Linked DNA regions of Homo sapiens: region 1 is reported to be linked to region 2. Evidence: microRNA targets listed by miRTarBase, many of them from high-throughput screens and not tested one by one. Region 2 holds a microRNA gene; the other region holds the end of a gene's coding sequence.

Region 1 (7,000 bases), not on the chromosome of region 2:
GCCACAGCCTCCTTTCATTTATTTATTTTTTTGAAATGGAGTCTCGCTCCGTTGCCCAGGCTGGGGTGCAATGGCGCAATCTCAGCTCACTGCAACCTCCACCTCCCGAGTCCAAGTGATTGTCCTGCCTTAGCCTCCCGAGTAGGTAGGATTACAGGCATGCACCACCACGCCCAGCTAATTCTTGTATTTTTAGTAGAGGCAGGGTTTCATCATGTTGGCCAGGCTGGTCTCAAACTCCCGACCTCAAATGATCCACCCACCTCGGCCTCCCGAAGTGCTGGGATTACAGGCGTGAGCCGCCGTGCCCAGCCCAGCCTGCTTTTAGCAGCTGAACACAGGCCTGCCTTGGGAAGTTAATGGCCGTGGAAGAATTTTCCTCCTTCCAAGCAGGAAAGGGAGGAGAGATAGGGCTGACAGCTTACTCTCTTCAGAGTTTCCTGGGGAAGGGGACACCTATATGGTGGCCCGGCCCTGCTGAAGGTCAAGATGCTATAGTGTTATGGTTTAAAGGTAGGTGCAGGGTCTAGGGGGCCTAGGCACTAACAGAACTAATCTCTCCTCCCCCCAACTGCTGTCCAGGTTCATGGATAGTCATGCTTGGTCTTGTCTTACTGTTCTTTCTGGTCTCAGCCATACCCTTGCTTCCCCAGGCACTCCTGGCCTTTGTTTTCCTACCTCTGGACTCACCCTAGCTGTCCTGTACAACCTGCCCCGCACCTCTGGGCAGTCCTGGGGTGCTCTTGGACCTCTCCTTCCCAGCCTCCTGCAAGATGCTGAAGGACTTTTTGCTGGTTGCACTGGCCTTCACTGGTGTCACTCTGTTGCTGCTCCTGTGACCCTGAGGAAGGCACTCGAGGTCTTCCAGCCATCCTGCCCTCTCTGCAGCTTAAGAGGCTCTGTTTTGGTGCCCTGCCAGCTGGGAGGCCCACAAGATGGGGCTGGTGACTTGCGCAACAGAGAGACTCTCTTCTGAGGAGGAAATTGATATGGAATCTCAGTCTATTTTGGAGGAAGACCTGGAGGCAGTGGCCCCTTCAGAAGACAACGAAAAAATAACCCTTGTTTCTCTCTCTATATAATCTATAATAATATTATTATATATAATCTATAATAATATTATTATATATAATCTATAATAATATTATATATAATCTATAATAATATTATATATAATCTATAATAATATTATTATATATAATCTATAATATTATTAGATATAATCTATAATATTATTAGATATAATCTATAATATTACTATATATAATCTATAATATTATTATATAATCTATAATCCATAATATATATTATTATATATAATCTATAATCTATAATATATAATAATATTATTATATATAATATATAATATATAATATATTATTATATATTATATATTATTGTATATTATATATTTTATATATTATAATATAATATATAATAATATATAATATATTATATTATTATATAATACATAATATATTATTATATATTATATAATAGATATATAATATATTATTATATATTATATAATAGATATATAATATATTATTATATATCATATAATAGATATATAATATATTATTATATATTATATATTATATAATAGATGTATAATATATTATATATAATATATTATATTATATAATAGATATACAATATATTATATATAATATATAATATATTAAATATTTAATATATAATATATTTAATATTTAATATTTAATATATATTATATTTAATATTTAATATATATTATATTTAATATTTAATATATTATATTTAATATTTAATATATAATATAAATTAATATAAATATTAAATAATATAATATATAATATTTAATATATTATATATAATATATTATATATATTTGAGACGGAGTCTCTGTCGCCCAGGCTGGAGTGCAGTGATGTGACCTCGGCTCACTGCAACCTCCACTTCCCAGGTTCAAGTGATTGTCCTGCCTCAGTCTCCTAGGTAGCTGGGATTACAGGCATGCACCACCACGCCCAGCTAATTTTTATATTTTTGTAGAGATAGGGTTTCACCATGTTGCCAGGCTGGTCTTGAACTGACCTCAAGTGGTCCAGCTGCCTCAGCCTCCCAAAGTGCTGGAATTACAGGCACGAGCCACTGCACCTGGCCTGTGTTGCCTTAACCTTGTGCTTTTTGGTACTAGTTGTTAGGGGAAAAACCTGATGTCTTAACTTTGTGACATGCATTTGTGGTCTCTGAAGGGGCCAGTGTGGTGGTGGGTTCTTGGGGAAGGAGTAAGAGGCAGGGCTGGGGCCTCATTAGCACCAGCATAGTGTTGCCCACCGGTGTCCCTGGCCTGAGGTCTACACGGTTGGGAGCCTCGCCTTTTGGCCTCAGCAGAAATTTGACTCCTCTATGGGAAATGGCCTGTGGCCACCAACTCTAGCTTCCCAAGAACAGTGAGACTTTTCCTTCCCTGGCTCTGCCTTGGCATTTCTGGGCTGTTGGAACAGGAACTTCTAAGTTAACTTTCCTTCTCACACAATGGGGGGCCTGCAGGCCTTGGTTTTCCTGCCCTATGCTGCTAGCTTATCACTTCTGGAATGAGGGGGCTGTGTTAGTCCATTTTGTGTTACTATAAAGGAATATTGGGCCAGGTAAGGTGGCTCACGCTTGTAATCCCAGCACTTCGGGAGGCCAAGGTGTGTGGATCACCTGAAGCCACGAGTTCAAGACCAACATGGTGAAACTCCATCTCTACTAAAAATACAAAAATTAGCCAGGCATGGTGGCAGGCACATGTGTTCCCTGCTACTTGGGAGGTTGAGGTGGGAGAATTGCTTTAACCCAGGAGGTGGAGGTTGCAGTGAGCCTAGATTGCACCACTGCATTCCTGCCTGGGCGACAGAGTGAGACCCTGTCTCCAAAAAAAAAAAAAAAAAAACAAACACCAAACACGAAAAAAGGAATATTGGAAGCTGGGTAATTTACAAAGAAAAGAGGTTTACTTGGCTCATTGTTCTGCAGGATGTACAGAAAGCATGGTGCCGGCATCTGCTCAGCTTCTGGTGAGGGCTTCAGGAAGCGTTTACTCATAGCAGAAGAGGAAGGGGAGCCAGCGTGTCACATGGTGAGAGGAAGGGAGCAAGAAGAGGGGAGGGGTGCCAGCCTCTTTTAAGCAATTGTAGAATAAGAACTCACTCATTATGGCGGGCAGGCACCAAGCCATTCATGAAGGATCTACCGCCATGACCCAAACACCTCCCACTAGGCCCCACCTCCAACATCGGGGGCCACATTTCCTCCTGAGATTTGGAGGGGACAAATATCCAAACTCTATTAGTGACCATTGGCCAAAGCTACAAAGTGGGTCTCTTTCCTTCCCCAATGCTGCCTCCTGGAGATTCAGGACTGGAGCTGAGCATCTAGACCCTGAGTAAGACTGGAGGCTAGAAGCTGGAGCTTGGGAAGCCTGCCTCTTACTGGCTGTGTGCACACAGTGGGAGCTGGCTTGCCAGGGGTGGGCATCAGCGGATGCTGATGGGCACTTTGCAGATCTCAGCTCTGGCCCTGGCCTTAGGTTCTTTGCACTGCTCCACCTCCTGGTGCAAGTCCCCTCCACTCAGCTGCCACAGAGGAGCTCTGGCAACAGCACTGCTCATCTTAGTCCCAAAGGCACAAAGGGTCCACACTCTCTACCTCAGACCCTGCTTCAACATCGAGGCCTTTCCTTTGGTGGTCAAGGGTGAGACCACCCTGTCCCCCGACCCTGCATCACCCACACTAAGCCATCCTCTCCCAAGGATTCCATGACATCATTGGCCCAAATTGTGGGTGCTGCCACCGTCTTCCAAGAAGGTGAACCCATCCCCCTCTTTCCATCCTCCTCCCTTTCCTCTCTCTTCCCTCCATCTTCCCTCATTGGTAGGATTGTCAGATAAAATATAAGATGCATAGGTCAATTTTAATTTTAGATAAACAATGGATACATTTTAAGTATGTCTTTTTTTTTTTTTTTTTTTTTTTTAGATGGAGTCTTGCTCTGTTGCTCAGGCTGGAGTGCAGTGGTGTGATCTCAGCCCACTGCAATCTCCACCTCCTGGATTCAAGAGATTCTCATGCCTCAGCCTTCTGAGGAGCTGAGATTACAGGTATGTGCTACCTCCCCAGGCTAAATTTTGTATTTTTAGTAGAGACGGGGTTTCACCACATTGGCCAAGCTGGTCTCGAACTCCTGACGTCAAGTGATCCGCCTGCCTTGGCCTCCTAAAGTGTTGGGATTATAGGCATGAGCCACTGCACCTGGCCATGCTTTTTTTTTTTTTTCCTTTCTAAATCTGACAACCCTCATTTTCTCTTCTCTTCCTTCCTTTTTCCTTTCTCCTTCCTCCTCCCTCCTCCTTCCCTGCCAGCTCAGGAAGAAGGCAGTCTTGTCCCATTCTGACAAATTGTTATAGAAGAGTGGTGGGGGTGAAGAGGTGACGGGGTAAGGGGCAGCCTTAGCTCCAGGACTATTTCTGTCACCTGTAGGCTGAAGATACAAGGCCAGTGCCTTTGGGAGCTCAGTTTCCCATCTATAAAGCAGATATCAGATTTTGCACCCATAAGTGCATGTGGGAAAGTGCTTGCTGCTGCTGAATATTTGCTTGACTAGCCTGAGTCAGACCTCATAGCCTGCCCACGGATGAGCTCAGCCCTCCGTTTGTTTGTTTCCAAGGAGCCTCTCATGGCACCAGCCTTTGGTTCCCATTCATCCCCATTCCCGGGTGTGATCCGGCTCCCCTGGCAAGAGTTGTGTCAGGGACTGGGGCTCAAGCCAGCCTCTTCACGTCCCCGAATCACAGCAGAAAGTTGGGAAGGAAACTCTGGAGTCCTGGCCTTTGCCCTAGTCACCCAGGGTCATGGTGAGCGTCAGGGGGTTGTGCTTCACAGATGCCATGTGAGCAGCGGACAGGATGCTGAGCTGAGGAACACAAGCCCTGCCCCACTCTGCTGTGAATTTCCTTGGACAAGCTGCTTCAGTATTGTGGGTCTCTATGGCCTATCACCTCCTCTACCCACAAACAGGGACTGGAGAGGGTGACATGCAGGACACTTCTACTGGAAGGTCTAGAACAAATAAATCATGCCTTCTCACTGCCTTTGTAAAAGTGGAATCTTAGGAGGTCATATTCTTACTATATTAAATTTTTTTGATAGAGATGTGGTCTTACTATGTTGCCCAGGCTGGTCTAAAACTCCTGGGCTCAAGCGATCCGCCCATCTCAGCCTCCCCAAGGGCTGGGATTATAGGCAGGAGGCGGTATTACAAGGCAACTGAGAGCAATGTCATTGGAGTAAACAAAGCAAAAACAGGCCAGGCATGGTGGCTGAGGCCTGTTATCCCAGCACTTTGGGAGGCTGATGGGGGGTAAATCACTTGAGGCCAGGAGCTTGAGACAACATGGGGAAACCCCATCTCTACAAAAAAATACAAAAAAATTAGCCAAGTGTGGTGATGCCCACCTGTAGTCCCAGCTACTCAGGAGGCTGAGGTGGGAGAATGGCTTGAGCCCAAGAGGTCAAGACTGCAGTGAGCCATGATTGTACCACTGCACTCCAGCCTGGGTGGGCGACAGAGCGAGACCCTGTCTCAAAAAACAAACAAACAAACAAATAAACAAACAAACGAACACCCCCTGCCCCAGGTCCTGGATCTGCCACCCAAGCTGTAAGATGTTGAGTGAGTAGCTTCACCCCTCTGAGCCTCCATTTCCTTATCCATAAAGGGCCTTGGGGATGGCATGAGAATAAAACATGCTAAACTCACAAAGCTCTTGGCACAGTTTCTGGTACACAGAGAGCACTCGCCAAATGATAGTTGTTTTCTTTATTATGATTATGCCAGATGTGACTGCCTTTGCTTCCAGGAAAGTCCCTAAAACATAAGCTATGTGCAACAAGGGAAGTGGGTTAGGGTGGGAAGCTGAGCGTGCAAGTCAGACAAAGCCTGATGTAGGCAGCTCCTATCAGAGGCATGTGGCCTTTGTGGCTGGGGCCCTCAAAAGACAGCCACTGCCAGAAATCTGGAGACTGAATTGTCTGGGTCTCCAGAAGAGAGTCCAACCCCACCACACATCTGCTCCTGTCCAAGGTGCTGAAATCCACCCCACATAGGCTCCTCCTAATCATGTACAGCTGTTGAGTCACCTGCACCCTACCTTCTGGTCCTCCATTCAATGCCACAAATATACACTGAGCATCTACTATATATAGGGAGTGGAAGTAAAAAGGATTTAGATATGTCTCCAACCCAAGTTGCTCACAGCCATACGGAAGGAATTCAAGCATACACACCTGCCTTAGGGTAGGTGAGGACAAAGGCTAGGGGATTCATTTTGCTATTTATTGAGTTTCATGACACCCACTTCTTGCCTTTACCCTTGCTTTTTCCTCTTCTGCAACCTTGGTACCCTCCAAGGTTGTGCCTCTCATACCTTTCTTGATCTGACCACAGTAGATGAGTTTTCCCCAGGGCATCTCTTTCTGTACTCACTAACGTCACAGAGTCAGGAGGACTAACAATCAATTTCAGGGAGGGAGGGAGTGTAGGATATAAACAGAGAAATCAAAGGGTTAGGAGGTCTCTGAGAAATGAGGGAGCCACCTAGACAGGGGTGAGCTCCTTATCATATTTCTGCATGCCCTCGTCAGGGAGCAGGACCTCCACTGTGAAGCTGACCTTCTTGGCGTGGACAAAGCTATAGGTGTTGTCGAAGCGTAGGACATCTGGGGGACAGATGGAAAGAGGGGCATTGGGCTTGGCTTTACACACTCTTTTTTCCACCCCTGGCCATGGAGGAGGACAGGCTTGTGTTCCCACTGGCTTTGTTTGCCAAGCTGGGCCAAGCTCCCACCACGCCTCTTCCCTTCCCCATGGGAACTGCCAACCCAAGCAGGTCCTGTAAACAGACACCAACCTCCTCTTGGCATGTGCCCAGGCATGGCTTTACTGGCATCGAGAACAATGGTCATTACATCCCAT
Region 2 (7,992 bases):
CACAGGATAAAAGGACCGCTTCACCGTGGCCCAGGATACCCTTTTAAGTAGGAGGTAACTATTCAGTTTCGTAGTGGCCCATACATAAACTTGATTATGTTCTTCGTTGCTCCAATATACTATTTGTGTGTTTTGTTTTTTCCAGAGGGAGAAGAAAGTACTGCTTTGATCTAAAATTAAGCAAACGTTCTTCAATAAACCCACCATGAGACTTGACCACTAATGGTGACCAGCAGTGGCTTTGTCATGGCCCTGCCCACTGGGGGCAGGCACATGCCGGGGCCAGGGCAGGCTGCCAGCTGGTGAGCACGAATAGGTGGCTGGTGGAGCGCATGCAGTGGGAAGGGCAGATGGCTCCATTTTGATTTGTTAGCAGGCCACTTCCTCGGAAGGGGCTTTCCCTTCAGTGGGGTCTGCACCGCCAGCCTCAGCTGTCTTGGAGCAGATGTGTATAGTTAGAGATGGGGACCTTTTCACTGTAAATACTGCTCACATGTTCCTAGGCTGACTTTACTATGTGCAGAGCCTCTTCTCAAATATCCAAATCCCCTCTGTTGGGTACTACAGAACAGATGTTACCCTGCCTCCTATTACATTAATTTACGAACTTTACATATGCTGAGTTACGGACCCTAAGCTGTTGCATGTGCTTGGCTCTTATGTTCCAAAAAGTACATTTGTATGGTTTTGTGGAAACTGTGCTGTTCTGCTTTTGCAGTCTGTGAGATTCTGATTTTTTTTTTCTCATCAGCAATTATCCTTGTCTTGGAACATCAGAGCTTGAAGAAAGGGATTCTAGCAGCCCACCTCTCTCCTTCCTAATCCAGATGGTTAGAGGCTTAGAGAGAGGTGGTGGTTGCTCTGAGTTTACCAGATTCAGTGACAAACCCCTTCTAATTTCTAATCAATCTGGCAGCCTTCATTTACCAAAAGTTGACTTTTGATAGTATAACTTTTATACACCGTGAGACAACTTATTTTAAAAAACAGTTTAGAAATATTTAATTTTTTTTTGAAAGACTTTTTAAGGTCAGGCACCATGGGTCATGCCTATCATCTCAACGCTTTGAGGACTGAAGTGGGAGGATCATTTGAGGCCAAGATTTCAAGATCAGCTTGGGCAACATAGTGAGACTCTGTCTCTAAAAAATTAAAAAAAAAAATAGCCAGGTGTGGTGGCGCATGCCTGTAGTCCCAGCTACTTCGGAGGCTGAAGTGGGAGGATCCATTGAGCCTAAGAGATGGCGATTGAGTAAGCCATGATTGCACCACTGCACTCCAGCCTGGACGACAGAGATGTCAGAAAAAAATTAGTTTTATTATTATTAGTTTATAATAATATTATTTTAATATTAATATTATTTAATAATTTCATATTATTTATTATTATTAGTTTTATTATTAGCAAAACTGAGTGGAAGGCACAGAGATTTTCCATATTCTTCCTGCCTCTCCAACAAACATGTCTCCCTCATTATCAACATTTCTTCCCAGAGTGGTACACTTTTTATAATTGATGATCCTACACTGACACATCATCATCACAATGAGTTCATAGTTGACGCCAGGGTTCACTCTTGGTGTTGTACATTCCAGGCATTTGGACAAATGTATAATGACATGACTCCACCATTTTAGTATCATACAGACGAGTTTCACTGCCCTAAAATCCTCTGTGCTCCACTGATACTTACTCCTTCATCCCCTTGCTCCCTCAGCCCCTGACAACCACTGATCTTTTTATTGTCTCCATAGTTTGGTCTTATTTAATATTTTTTGAGGTTGCACTGTTGCCCCAGGACATCGTATGAGTAGAGGGTTAACCACCTTAGCCAAGAGTAATTTGGTCTGGTGAGTTCTCCACCTTCAGGACAAAAGCATTTCAGAACCATCCTAACAATAGTGTTCCCATAAGTAACCAGACACTGTTTGTATCCATAGCAACATGGCTCCATGAGCCCTGCTTCCGAGGAGCAGCTGCCCTTCCTGGGCACTGTCAAGAGTTGTTCTTCTCTGACATCCACACCCTTCTTTACCTGGCACATACCCCAGCCCAGGCACCAGGCATCCAGGGCCTTCTATGGCTGTCCGGATGCATTCCTTCACAGCTGGAATGTGGTTGGCTTGTTGACTTCTGTTCCCAGCATAGTGAACAGTGGGCACTATAAGCCAGTAGGCACTCAATTGATGATTCTTCAATGAAATAATTGATGCCACTTTTAGGTCAGTCTTTCTTGTACGTTACACCTTCTGTTGTTCAACAGAGCCCCACAATATCCCAGAACTTGGAGGTCTTATCTCGGGGTTTCTCAGATGTTGGAGTACCCAGGTATCACCTGCTGAGCCAGTTTCCCTGGCCTCACCTGCAGGGGCTCTGAGTCAGTAAATCTGGGGCAGGCCCAGTACTTTGCATGTGAGCACAGACCCAGGTGTTTCTGAACCTGGTGGTCCAGGGACTGCTGCAGGAAGGAGCCAATAGGACTGCATGCCTTAGAGGCAGTGGGTCTCATCCATCCCTATCTATGGCACTGACTACAGGCCATGTCCAGGCCACATGGGCACATGCTATTATAATTATTTTGTGTGATGGATGAGTTACAGAACTGGAGCCCTAAGACCTGAGTTCTAGTTTCAGCTCTGCCAGTTGCTGGCTGATTGAAACTGAACAAGCCACCTGCCTTCCCTGAGACTGTCTCTTCTCCTGTGAAATTAGGGCATTAGAATACATGAAGACCCCTTTATGTCCTTAATAACCTGTAAGTTTAAGAACCTAGGGAATCTCCATGCTGGTGGCTGCGGTTATATCCCCTTATCCTCAACTCGTGAAGAAAGAGTCAAAAATGGCAGCAGGGTTGTGTCAACTGCTCTCCTCAGCAGCTATCATAAGGGAATTGCCTTTGTCATTTTCCCCAGCCATCACCACACTCCCACACGGCCACCATCACCTAAACCATCTGGCAGTGGGGGTTACCTCCTAAATCTAAGACGCAGAGACCCACCGCAGGCCTTTCTTTCTGGCTGCCCTCCACTCCCACCCAGAGGCTCAGTTTTGCTGGGCTGCACACCTCCGAGGACTCAGTTCTTTGTGTTTCATGTTGTTTCATATCCACTAGTGTTACAGAAACTGCTGCAAACCAGGGACCAAAAGTCCATAGGTTCTAATTCTAGCTGTGACACTAGTGAGATGAGTGACTGCTGGCAAGTTACTTTATCTATCTGACCTCACCTCCCATGTACAAAATTGGGTCTGTATGCACATTTGTGGTTCTAAATCCTGGAGTCCAAATCAGAGTTCTTTGTGCAAAATATACGTAGCTAGGTCCTAACCTCGGAGATCCTGACTCAGTCTGGGGAAAGGCGCAGATCTTGGGGAGAAAACAACTCTCTAGAAGAGTCTCGCCTTCAGTGAGTGACAAGATCTCTCCTGTCTCTCGGTTCACAATGTTACCCTAACTAATCCATCCTCTGATGTCACCTGCTAACAACTTCCCCTGTGGCATCAAACCAGTAGCCCATTTGCAGCTAGTACAAACACTTCTTTACATTTAAGTTTTGTTTACGAGATTTAGCCTACAATCATAGAGGCTGCCAGCTGGGTTTCAAATGTGTATGTTCCATTGCTAATAGGAAAAACTGCATCTATTAGAAAAATTCTCTCTGGGAGCTGAGCACAGAGGCAGGCCTTGTATTGCAAACATTTGAAAAGCCATAAGCAGGTATTCTGGACTGTGTTTTAGATCACCTGAGAACATTTCTTGAACACTAGTATTTGCTTAGAGTGACAAACCTATTAAGTGGTTCTTTCAGGTAAGTTTGCATCCAAGCAATGTCGTCTGAATCGCAGGAGGAAGTCAGGAGTTGTGTCTGGCTTTCTGGCCATACAAATGGCATATGGGAAAGTCATTGTATATTATTAATATCCTTTGATGTATATTATTATGACTTTCTCACGGTAGTAATGTTGTTGGTTTTTATTAATGTTATTTTTATAGCAATGCTAATATTATGAGCTAAAAGTTTCTGAGCATCTGCTGGGTGCCAAAAATTCTTATAAATGCTTTACATGCATTAGCTCCTAACAACACTTTGAAGTAATTCTTATTGTCCTTACTTGACATATACAGGAATAAAAACCTGACCATTAGACCGAGCGTGGTGGCTCACGCCTGTAATCCCAACACTTTGGGAGGCCGAGGCAGGCGGATCACCTGAGGTCAGGAGTTTGAGACCAGCCTGGCCACCATGGTGAGACCCCGTCTCTACTAAAAACACACAAAAAATTAGCCGGGCGTGGTGGTGGGTACTTGTAATCTCAGCTACCCGGGAGGCTAATGCAGGAGAATCGCTTGAACCCAGGAGGCGGAGGTTGCAGTGAGCCAAGATTGCGCCATTGCACTCCAGCCTGGGCAACAAGAGCAAAACTCTTTCAAATAAACAAACAAAACCTAAGCATTTGAGGGGTTTGGCCTGGGCAGTGGAGCTTGTGAGCTATATGAGCTGGAATCTGAGTCAAGGCTGGGCTGGTGAAAGGAGTTCACTCAAGTTCCCAAGGTATTCTGTCCTCCAGGACTCTGAATCACCTGGGAGGAGAAGGAATTGTGGCGGGCCTAACACCTTTTCTTTCCCAAACACCAAGAGCAGGTTCTTTCTGTTACATCCATTGAGGTCACATTCTTGAAGTGCATTTTGAGGAAGTCATTATTTTCGCTACAGCAGGGACTGATGTATCAGTCTATTAGAATTCAGAAAAAAGTAAGCAAACAAAAAACGTGTTGGAATTATTCTCTTCTAGCATTTTGAAATGTACAATGGTTAATGTTAACTATAGCCACCATGATGTATTGAAGACCAGGTCTTATTCTTTTTATCTAACTGTACATTTGTACCCATTAACCTAATGCTCATAGCATCAAGAAAAGATCAATATTTAAGGTGACAAATATCCCAATTATGCTGATTTGATTATATGAATGTGTTGAATTATCATATGTACTCCCAAAATATGCACATCTAAGATGTATCAATAAAAATAAAGACAAAAATTAAAGCTTTTACAGTAGAAAAAAGGTTTTAGAGAAATTATGATTACTTGATTCACCTAAACTGACAGTCTTGCTTGGAATGAATTACTGCTTTTTGTAACATAGTTTTAGAAGAGAGATTCACATTTAATGTTACTTTGTGCTAAGCACTGTAATCCATGCCTGGGTGCTCACAGCGCTCCTCTGGGACCAGGCATCACCATCTCCTCTGTAAAAGGAAGGTCAGCCTGTTGCCAAGACCACAGGATAAACGGCTTGGCTGATTTAGGAAACCCAGTTGGTCTTATGACAAAACATGCGCATTTGCCCTTCACCAGGTGATTTTTCTGTAGGGTTATCTTCAACAGTCCGACAAAGCTGTGTTCCACCAGCTCAGGCAGGCTGTGACCAGGATCACCAGCCATGTGGCATCAGGAAGAAGGGGCTGTGTGGCCAGGCTCAATCTCTGGTCCTGCAGCCTTCTGCCTTTGGCTTTCTGAAGCGAGCTGAACTAGAGATTGGGCCCAGCTCGGCAGCGCAGTTTCAGGAGAGCCAGGATACAAACCATCCCAGTCTCTGTTCCCACAAAGGAGAAGCTAAACCATTTTTTATTTGCCCATTCTAAGTGCTAAGTGATATGCAACTGCTTCACATAAGCCTTCCAGCCTTCCAGCCGACTCTGCTTTCAGGAGATATCCTTATGTCCCTTTTGCATGGCTTAGGAGAGTGAAGCACGTGAGAATTGAACGAGGGGTCAAGGGTCACATAACACATGAGCACGAAACCGGGACTCTCCTGGGGTATCAGACCCCAAAGCCAGTGGTCTGCGCTTGATCTTTGCTAACGTCCGAGAAGCAATAAGTCCAGGGCTCTTGACACATTATTGTGCATTTTACTTTGGGAGGGACTGTGGGTCCACTCTGCTTTTAACAGGAGGAAATTAAATATTTACATTTGATTCCAGTTTGGCCCCATGACTGTCCGGCTTCTTTCCTGTCAAAGGCCCAAATTCCCTGTTTTAAAGTAGAGGGTGAATTTGTGTAATGAGGATGGATCGGGCACGTGTAGAACACACTCTTTCACCTGCAGATTCACACTCCAAACACAAAGAAATACTGGATCATATATGGTATATTTTAAAAGATGCCATAGGCATACTTAAAAAGCACAACAGAATTCTATTTTCTCACGTCAGAGGGCAGAGTCTTATGAGCTATTGAGAGGAAAACTGTATCTTAGGGGTTGAGAGCCTAACGTCTGCTTGGGGGTGTTTGTGGCCCTGGCAGCTGTTGTGTGCAGTGCACATTAGAACTGAGCAGCTTTATAAAGCCAGGAACAAGGGTAGAGTCCCTGTGTCTCTGAATAGAAATTAGCGATGCTTAGCCTTCTGTACCAAGGAATGCATCACAAAAGCTAATGCTGGGACTGGGCCTGGTGTGGGATAGGAGTCACACAGAGGAGTCAGAACGCCAACTGTGGCTGGTGTAAGGGGCCTCCATTCACACTGTCTTTGCTGTTTGGAAAATCTGAGCAAGAATTTAAGGTAAAAGCTGATGTGGAACAGCTTGCAACCCAAAAGTCTCAAGCCCAGCATAAAAATCATTGCTCCAGTGAAGATGCCTGCAGAGCTCAAGGCATTTCTGAGACTCCATGGGAGAATGATTCCTAAGGAAGGTGTGCCCCCAGCACCTGTGGAGACTCATCACCTTGAGGGCAAACAGACTCTGTAAAAGGAGAATTCACCTCTAAGGAGCTGCAGACAATAGAGGGATTAAAATGGGCCTTTGATCATTCAAAAAGCATTTTAAAGGAAAAAATAAAGTAACATAATCCAAATTCCAACAGGAGACTTGAAAAAGAAGGTAATAACAAAATGGAAAATAAAGTCACTGAAATAAAGCAAGTGAGTTGGACTATGAATGTCTCCTGTCCATTAGCTGTGTCCCCGGCTGCAAGGTCCATGGGGACTGTGCCTCCCTTGACCTTGAATCTCAATGCCTTAGCAAAGTGCCTGGTTCTGGGTAGGTTCACAGTACACATGTACCTCCCAAATGGATGGATTGCCAACTTAAATGTTCATAGGAAGGTGCTATTTTCAGGCACTTCAGGTGTGGACATCGGTGTTGTCAGATCTTTTCTGTTCTAGCCAGGCATTGTGGACATCACCTTACTATGTGAGGGAACAAGCTGCATTGGTGGAGAGGAAACCAGCAGGAGCACAATAGTGACCCATTTCTCTTGTCTTATGCACTGCAGTGGAAATAGCCCAGTGTGCATGGTGGATTTTATTATGGTGCCAGTAGAAAGATAGGGGGTTTCCTCTATGAGCTGGCTGACTTACATGAGCTCATTCTCTGCAGCATTTCTCTAGCCATCTCCTGTCACATCGTTTATTGTGTTCACTAGTCCTGTGCTAACGAGGATCTTTGAAAAATGACTGGTATGGTAATGATCTACGGAACTTACTGTAGATAGCAATTAAATATCGTTAACGGCGGGTTACGCTGACACATTAAAAGGCCTACAGGCTGCGATTTATGAAGACAGCTCTGCTGCCTCCTTTGTATGTGATGCATTTCTCTGGTTTCGGCTTAGGCTGTCTGGTCTCAGAAGGGAATGATTTCCAGGCTTTCCCCATCATCACTCCAGTTGCCAGGCCACCCACAATCACATTAGCAAGCTTTATTGTCCCTATTGCACCTCCTAATGCCCTCAGGGTGCTTGAGGTAGCTTTTATCAAGGTAAGGCCTAGGTCAACATTTTGTTGTGCAGAAAAGGCATCTGCTTTCAGAGGAGAAAATTTAGATACAATATTGAGGTGAATCTTATAAGTGATGTAAGATAATTTGATGACAAGAATTGAGATTATATGCTGAGATCTTACTGTCTTAAACTTTGTTGATTTCTGAAAATAATAGAAATGCAATCCTAGCTAAAGGAAGAGAAGTAGTCTAGCTCACCAGTGGCCAGC

Evidence for each region. The annotated mature microRNA hsa-miR-7158-3p reads CUGAACUAGAGAUUGGGCCCA and lies in region 2 at 5,528-5,548, shown strand. An mRNA with a match to its seed (bases 2 to 7 or 8) in the 3' UTR can be bound and repressed. Matches are read on the target gene's strand: a 7mer-m8 pairs with bases 2 to 8, a 7mer-A1 pairs with bases 2 to 7 and ends in A, and an 8mer does both.
Region 1: miRTarBase lists SEC14L3 as a target of hsa-miR-7158-3p. The part of its 3' UTR that is shown has no 7-base or 8-base seed match.

What each region holds. Positions count from the first base shown.
Region 1 is chr22:30,453,399-30,460,398 of GRCh38, forward strand. SEC14L3 (SEC14 like lipid binding 3) reads right to left here. Exons shown (of 12, transcript NM_174975.5): 12 at 5,831-6,744. The coding sequence ends at 6,623. Among named protein-coding and RNA genes, the nearest start is that of SEC14L3, 15 kb to the right of the region's middle.
Region 2 is chr2:5,969,185-5,977,176 of GRCh38, forward strand. MIR7158 (microRNA 7158) reads left to right here and starts at 5,478; the gene lies at 5,478-5,548. SILC1 (sciatic injury induced lincRNA upregulator of SOX11) reads left to right here. Exons shown (of 2, transcript NR_026832.1): 2 at 1-7,992. RefSeq lists enhancers at 5,045-5,546, 6,426-7,079.